Linked DNA regions of Homo sapiens. The protein of the gene in region 1 purifies or fractionates together with the protein of each later gene. This does not show direct contact. Each region holds a gene or a part of one and is shown on either strand. Other genes may lie near its edges.

What was found.
Region 2: the proteins of SETMAR (region 1) and XRCC4 purify together in Homo sapiens (affinity purification with western blotting, with the first as the bait; one study listed by BioGRID). This does not show direct contact.

The regions. Positions count from the first base shown.
Region 1 is NC_000003.12:4,306,079-4,309,908, reverse strand, and holds part of SETMAR (histone-lysine N-methyltransferase SETMAR), read right to left. Parts: intron 1-3,830. UniProt on the Homo sapiens protein: Protein derived from the fusion of a methylase with the transposase of an Hsmar1 transposon that plays a role in DNA double-strand break repair, stalled replication fork restart and DNA integration.
Region 2 is NC_000005.10:83,199,326-83,203,155, reverse strand, and holds part of XRCC4 (DNA repair protein XRCC4), read right to left. Parts: intron 1-3,830.

The DNA.
Region 1 (3,830 bases):
TGTCTAATGATGCATTTCTCAGACTGTTTCCCCATAGTTAAATAATAACTGTATCTGAAGTATAATTGTATCTGAAAGCTAATGTAAAGTGGGTTACAAACTGGGAGTCAGCTGATATGACCTAAGCCAGACTTCTGCTGAAACAATTAGGGAAGAAGCATTCTCTTTCTACTAGAATTATTCAACTGTAGTGTTTGCCTGGCATTTCCAAGTTCTGCCACGTAGATGAGGCCTACTGAGTGTGTAGCCTACCACAGAAATGGGAAGCAGGGGTGTGAAGGGGGAAGGTGGTGGGAAGAAGTATCTGACAATACTTTTAGAATTACTGGGTCCAGACATGCCTATAGTTACCACTTGGACTTTTCTGATTTGAGGCAATTCCTTCCCTTTTTTGTTGGAGCCAGTTTGTGTTATGTTTCTTGCAAACAAATGAGTCCTGACTGATACACCCTGGGTAGAAGCTGAGAATGGTTTCAGGAAATGGCTAGAAAATGTACTCTGTTAACCAAAAATAAAATTCTAAATCCCCTGATCATCTGAAGGGACCCCTCCTCTCAGCAAGGGCATTCCAAAGCTAACCTGAAAAACTAGTTCAGGTCATGATGGGAAGGGGGCAGGGGTCAGACATGCCTCATTATACCCTCTTCCCTTTTGGAATTACTGATAGAACAGACTCTTTAAGTCTGATAAAAAACATTTACAATCTATTCTCTCTGAAGCCTGCTACCTGGAGGCTTCACCTGCATGATAATAAACCCCTGGTCTCCACAACCCTTTATCTTACCCAAGGCATTCCTAAGTTTTTAGACAATAACAATTCCTTCAAGCAAACTGTTAATCAGAAACTGGAAGCCTCTGCTTCCAACTGTCCTGTCTTTCTGGACTGAACCAATGTACGTTTTACATGTATTTGACTGTTGTCTCATGTCTCCCTAAAATGTATAAAACTAAGCCATATCCCAACCACTTCGGATACATGTTCTCAGGATCTCCTGATGGCTGTGTCATGGTCCATGCTCACTCATATTTGGCTCAGAATAAATCTCTTCAAATATTTTGCAGAGTTTGACTCTTTTCATAGACAAGTCAAAGGCGTAAATGGTCAATGAACAAAGATGTCTTCAATTAGGAGGTTAGACTAGAGCAAAGTGTGCAGACCAGGCAGGAAAACTCTGTGACTATGGTCTTGAACTGTGAGGAAGCAGTGGAGAGCTTCCTAGTGCAGAACATGGAATGCTCTAAAGGAGACACAAACCACAGCCAGGCTCTTATTAGCATTGTGATTCTGGACAAGTGACTGGCTAGGCTTCAGATTAGTAGCTATAAGACAAGGATAATACCCACATTTGGGGTGGCTATCATGAAATTTTAATGAAATAATGCTGTACTCCATGTCAGGCACTTTATAAAAATATTGGCTTCTTTCAATTCTTCTAGATATTACTTTTAGATGTTATATTTAAAACAACATATGTTTCTGGCAAATTACTTTACATTACTAAACATCTTATTTATTTCATAGGTTTCTGTGAAAGAAAACATGACAGAACTGGCTTAAAAAGCTTACTCTAGGGATTAGCATGTACGTGTTCAATAAAAATTTTGCAGGTAGTGCATAGTAGGGTAGTGAAGAAAATAAGTTCTGGAGTTAAACTTTCCAGGTTCAAACATATTCAAACCAAAATTGTGTCTAGGAAGCCATCGGACTGTATACCTTTCCTCCATTACTTCTCCATTTGAGTGGAGAAAAGCTAAGAGCTGATCCAGACTAGACTTCTTTCAGTTATCAAGTATTACCTTACTGTCTGCAATATGCACATACTGGGATTTAGAAACAGTCAGAAAAGTATAAAGGACACGGAGAATGGGATTTTTTTTTTTTAAGACGTTGCTGCCCAGTCTGGAGTGCAATGGCATGATCATAGCTCACTGCAGGCTCCAACTGCTGGGCTCAAGGTCAGCCTCCCAAGTAGGTGGGACTACAGGCATGCACCACCATGTCTGGTTAATTTAAAATAAAATGTTTTTGTAGAGATGGGGTCTCACTTTGTTGCCCTTTGTTAAGGGTGGTCTTAAACTCCTGACTTCAAGTGATTCTCCCGCCTTGGCCTCCAAAAGGGTTGGGATTATGGGAGTGAGCCACCATGCCTGGCTGGGATTTTTTAAATTTCCTGCATTGTTACAATGTAAGTTTTACTTTTTCTTCGTATGTATCAAAGCACAGAATTACTCATGCAAGAGCTAGGAATAAATGCAAAACAATCACGGCAAAATGATATACTGGAAATCAGATCCTTGAAGCACTGGGTGAAGATTTCAAGTTTTTTGACAGAAAACTTAAGAGAAAATACACTCTTGTCTTGGCTATTCCTGTCTGCAACAATTTCTTTCTTCTCTGAACTAGACTTACATTTACTGTTAATAGCATGAACTTCAGGGTCTAAATGACACAGATTGTAGGGCTCTCTAATTGTGTTAAATGTGTAGGTCTTACCTTTCTAACAGATACGTGTCTCAGGGAAAAGCATGGTTATGAGGTTTCGAGTGTGGCATGGTGATGGGGGTGGGGTTCCTATCCATAGGACAAGGCACACAGCAGGTGCTCAAGAAGCATTTTTCGATTGCCAGATTGCAGCTCTTGATACTTGTTAACGAGAAGTTTGACTTTTCTGAATCACATTCCGTACTGAAGACCCAGAAACTGAAGTATGATACTGTAACATTCTAGGCTTAAAACCTGGGCCTCTGAATTATAAAGAAGTGTTGTGAAAATCTTCATTCCTTTTTTGGTTGTGTTGAAACCCCAGCTACAAGAATCTTTGTACTTGGCCTCTAGCCTCATAAGTTTGTTTTTCCTCCAAGCAGCTATTAGAAGACTGTGAGCCAGATAATTCTTGTCAAGGCCTGTTGAGATCTAAAAATAATGTTTGAAGCTGGTTTCAGAGACCTGAAAAATGGTTAGATCCAACTGTTAGCTCAATAAAATCAATTAGTTTATTTTCTACTTGGCTTTCAACACTGATGACATTATGATATGCTTGTTTCCAATATGAACATTTGAATTTCTTTTTGCCTTTTCACACAGTAGCCAAAGGCAAAACAGACACAAAGTTATTTTTATCTTGAAAGTTTTTCATGCCTTAATTCTTATGTGTGCATATGCCTGTGAAGGCAGGGTTTGGAGCAAGCAAGCTGTTTTGACCTTTTATAAGACTGGTTTTGTGTTCCATGAATACATGGAAGAAAACGAGTTGAATGCACTTTTAGGCTTGTCACTTAAATGTTTCAAGCATGTTTGATCTTCTTGGTAAGAAAGACAATAAGCTCTCTTAGGAAGGCATCCTGTCTTATTTTTGTAACTCTAACTTTATTGGGAGCTGTGCATATACAGAGATAGTTAGAACACTGTGGGACTGGGTTTTAATCTCCCAATTTTCATTTATGCCCACCAACTGTAGATGTAACAATCAATCACAAAGCTTCCTCTTGTCACTCCTTTCTCCCCTTTTAAAAATAGACGTATTTATTTTAATATACACTTTGAGAAATAGAAAACCTCATGATTTTATGGACATTAATGATTACAATGATTCTAAGGGAGATACTTATATAATTTATTTTTAAATAATTTAACGCTTAAAGTGAGTTAATTAAAAAAATACGTCGGGCACATAGTTTTACAGATTGTTCTTGGATATGGCAAAGAAAAATATGACTCAAGATTGGAAACAGATTTATAGAATAGTCTCAAACGCACACACACACGCACGGCAGGAATATTGAAGCTAATCGTGACAGTTGTAAACACCTTGAGGGTAGAGTGCGTTTTT
Region 2 (3,830 bases), on another chromosome or scaffold:
GATAAGGCAACATAGCTAATTTGTCTGATTTATCTACTAGACAACAAACTGCTCCACAACAAGAACACGACTTATCCAGTTATATTCTTATAAGCGAGCACCACACACACACACACACAAATACATATAGAAATGCAATACACATACCCAATGAAAGTATTCTACTTGATATATTCAAGGAGAGATTAATAAAACAGCAAATGTAAAACACTACATATCTTCAAATTTAGATACGTAAGACAAAACATACAAAATTCTCTATTGTTTTTAATTCATCCCATACTGCTCAAATGAGCTAACAAGGGATTGTATTTATTTTAAGCTCCCAAGAGATATATAAAGAAAGCAAAATAGCTGAGGTTGTATATACTTAATATATGCATACACATACATGATGAATACATTCCTATTTTATTGATTCAAATACAAATTATTTTATGTATTCTTTTCAATGTTGTTTCATACTGCTTATTTACATTGTTGTTGTTTTACAGGTATCCTAGTATTTTTATACTGTACATAAACACACACACACATATATACCAGTAGTAATATATATGTGTGTGTACATATATAGACACACACATATATATTTCAGTGAAATTAGAAACACAAATGTCCAAATTAGATAGCTTTTATATACATGCCCTTAAACTTTCAACAATCTACCTATCTAGAGATGCAAAGAATTAGAACGTATCATAGGATAAAAAGGAAAATATGGCAATATATTCTCTGGGACCAATTTCAGCAAATTCTTACAGCACAGTCTTTGCCAAAGATGTGAACTCCACGAAAGCAGACAGCATGTGTGTTTTATTGGCCACTGTATCCTCAGTGCCCAGCATAGTGTTTAGCATTCGACAGATGTTTGGTAGGTTCTTATTAGACAAACGAATAAAGTGAATAAATTAATATGGACATCTTTTTGGTTTATTTATTTTCCCAGTGGTTTATTCGTTTTCCCAGCTTTTCTGCAGAGTTATTACAAGGCCTCAACAGTGCTTTAGTTTTTCTTTTCAATATCCTGTTCTGCAGCTTCCTTGGTCCTTTTTGCCCAGAGGCCAAAGAGCCAGGCATTGATATGGCAGGTTTTTTGTTTTTTTTTTTTTTGAGACAGACTTTCGCTGTTGTTGCCCAGGCTGGAGGGCAGTGGCACGATCTCCACTCACTACAACCTCTGCCTTCTGGTTTCAAGCGATTCGCCTGCCTCAGCCTCCCGAGTAGCTGAGATTACAGGCACCTGCCACCATGCCTGGCTAATTTTTGTACTTTTAGTAGAGACAGGGTTTCACCATGTTGGTCAGACTGGTCTCGAACTCCTGAGCTCGTGATCCATCTGCCTCAGCCTCCCAAAGTTCTGGGATTACAGGCGTGAGCCACCGCACCTGGCCTGACGTGGCAGTCTTGAAGTTCTCTTCCTCCTTGGTGATGACTCTGGCTTTCTCCTTCGTATAGGTATTTCATATGAACATTACCGGTCCTGTCAGTGTGATGGCCAATTTGAGTTCTTCAGTGTAGCTGTCTCTCTTCTCGGAGGCTGAGGTTTCTAGAGAAGGAGGATAAGCTTCCAGCAGTACTCCTACAGCTGTTATACATTGGCCTGCAGGGACTCAGTAGACTTGTCTCACCTCCTTGGATCAATAGAGAAATCAATGGTCCAGGCCATCTTCTTGTGGATGCTGGCCACCCTTAATTCTTCCAAGCTGAAGCCCCTACCAGCTTGTACTTGGTGTGAAACCTCATGTGGGGCATTTTACTAGGGGCCAGTGGGTCCAGATACAAGGCACCGGGCAATGCAGTGGGCTTGCCCAGTCCCATGTCTGTGGCTCTTCCTTGCAGGCTGGGTGAACCATATTGCTATAGGCCACTGCCAGTACTTACAAAAGTGGGGCTTCAGGATTATGCCATTCCTGCTGGGCACCATGGCTGACTATAGCCCTCCAGCAAAGAAGAAGAGCCAAGGAGAATGGCTAATATTGACATCTTATAAGGAAACAGAAAAACAGTGATTCCGAATATTGTATTTTTTCCCTCATTTAATAGCTATTCACCATTGTAAAAGTAATGTTTTTCATCTTCAGCTTTTAAAAAAACTGTGGCAAATAATATCAATCTAACAGTATTCCCTTCATTAAGCAAAGTTCTCTGAGAAAGAAGTACACGAAAGATGTTAGAAAAAAACTGAATATTGAAAAGGAGCTAGCAATATTGATAGTTTATTTTAAGCAAAGACATGTCACTACATTTATATTTCAGATTCAGTGTTACGTAAGCATGATATTCTTATCTTCCTATAATATTTTCAAAAAAACACAACAAAAAACTTTAAAACATACATATTACTGAAATACCTGAGTATATAATAACATACTTCAAACATATGCAAAGTAAAAACCAATATGTGAAAACATATAAACAAATATATTACAATTTCTTATATTAAATTTTAGGAATGGTAACCAATTAGTAATTTATCTGGTTTAAGTCCATATTTAATTTCCATATAAGTCACTTCAATAATTCTTGATTGAATGATGATGTGTACTTAACAACTAACAAGCTAATTCCCAAACCTTTATTAAAATTAACATTTGGTATGACACATTCAAAGTGAAAATAAATATGAAAATGAAATATCATATAATATTCCTAAAGAATATTGTTAATCTTAAGTAACCAGTATCAGATCTATGTTGTCAAAGGAAACATTTCTGTGACAGGAAAACACAGTCAATAGAATGAATGGTATCATGTGAGTTAACCTTGCTTGGTTTCAGCAAAGCTTTAGGATTTTTTTGCAACCAAACTTCTGATCATCAAACTGGACAACACTTCCTAGAAAAGTGGGGGAGCGGGAGCTGACTGGAGAAAAAGTATTAGTGTGAACAGTTGCATGACATGAATTTACTCTTAACTTTTAATTTTTCAAGACTCAGAGAATGCTATCCTTTTATCCAATAATCAGTAACTAAGAGGTATGTCGTATCATTCCCACCTAATTTTTAATGCCAATCCTCTCCTAGAGCATTATGATGTTACTATGCATTCCATTACGTGCTTCCTGTCAAGCTTATGCCTCAAGAAATTGGACAGGAACTGTTAGGTGAGAACATTTAGTGGAGAAGAGACATGGGATTCACTGCTAAGTCTGGTGACACTAACAAAAAGCCCATGTACAACTAGATCAGACCACACTAGTCCAAGGATCAAATCCAGGCAAATCTCAAATTGGGACGAAATCACAAATAACATCAAACAAGAAAGGTCTAATGATACTTCATCCTTTCTACAATAACTAGGAAAACAGAACAATAATGCTAAATTTAATTAGCAACCTAGCACTGAGGTATCTAAAACCTTGGACAAAAAAATAGTAATTTTTTTTAAAAAATTAAAAGGATAAAAAAATACAAAAAAATACTGAATATTCAAAATAAAATGTCTCTGGGTGGGAAAACAATCTAAGAATAACATGTCAAAACAATAACAAACTAGGAGGAAAAACACAACAATTTCATGCAGAAATAACACCAAAAATGAAACAACAGATTAAATGATAGCTCAAAATAAAATAATAGATATATAAATGTGAACATATGGTATTTAGACACAGTGCAGTAATCCTTAAATTAATAATCAGTTCTGGCCAAAATTATATCTGGCCCAGGTCAGGGTTGTATGTCAAAAGAAAGTCTGAATAGAGTTGGGAAGACAAAGAAAGCTAAAAAGAACTGGAAAAGCAAGCAGTGGTAAAGAGATTTAATAAGGCTTTAAGTACGGAAAAAGATGGTGAACAGCTGTTCCTCATCCTTTCTGACAAGAGAACA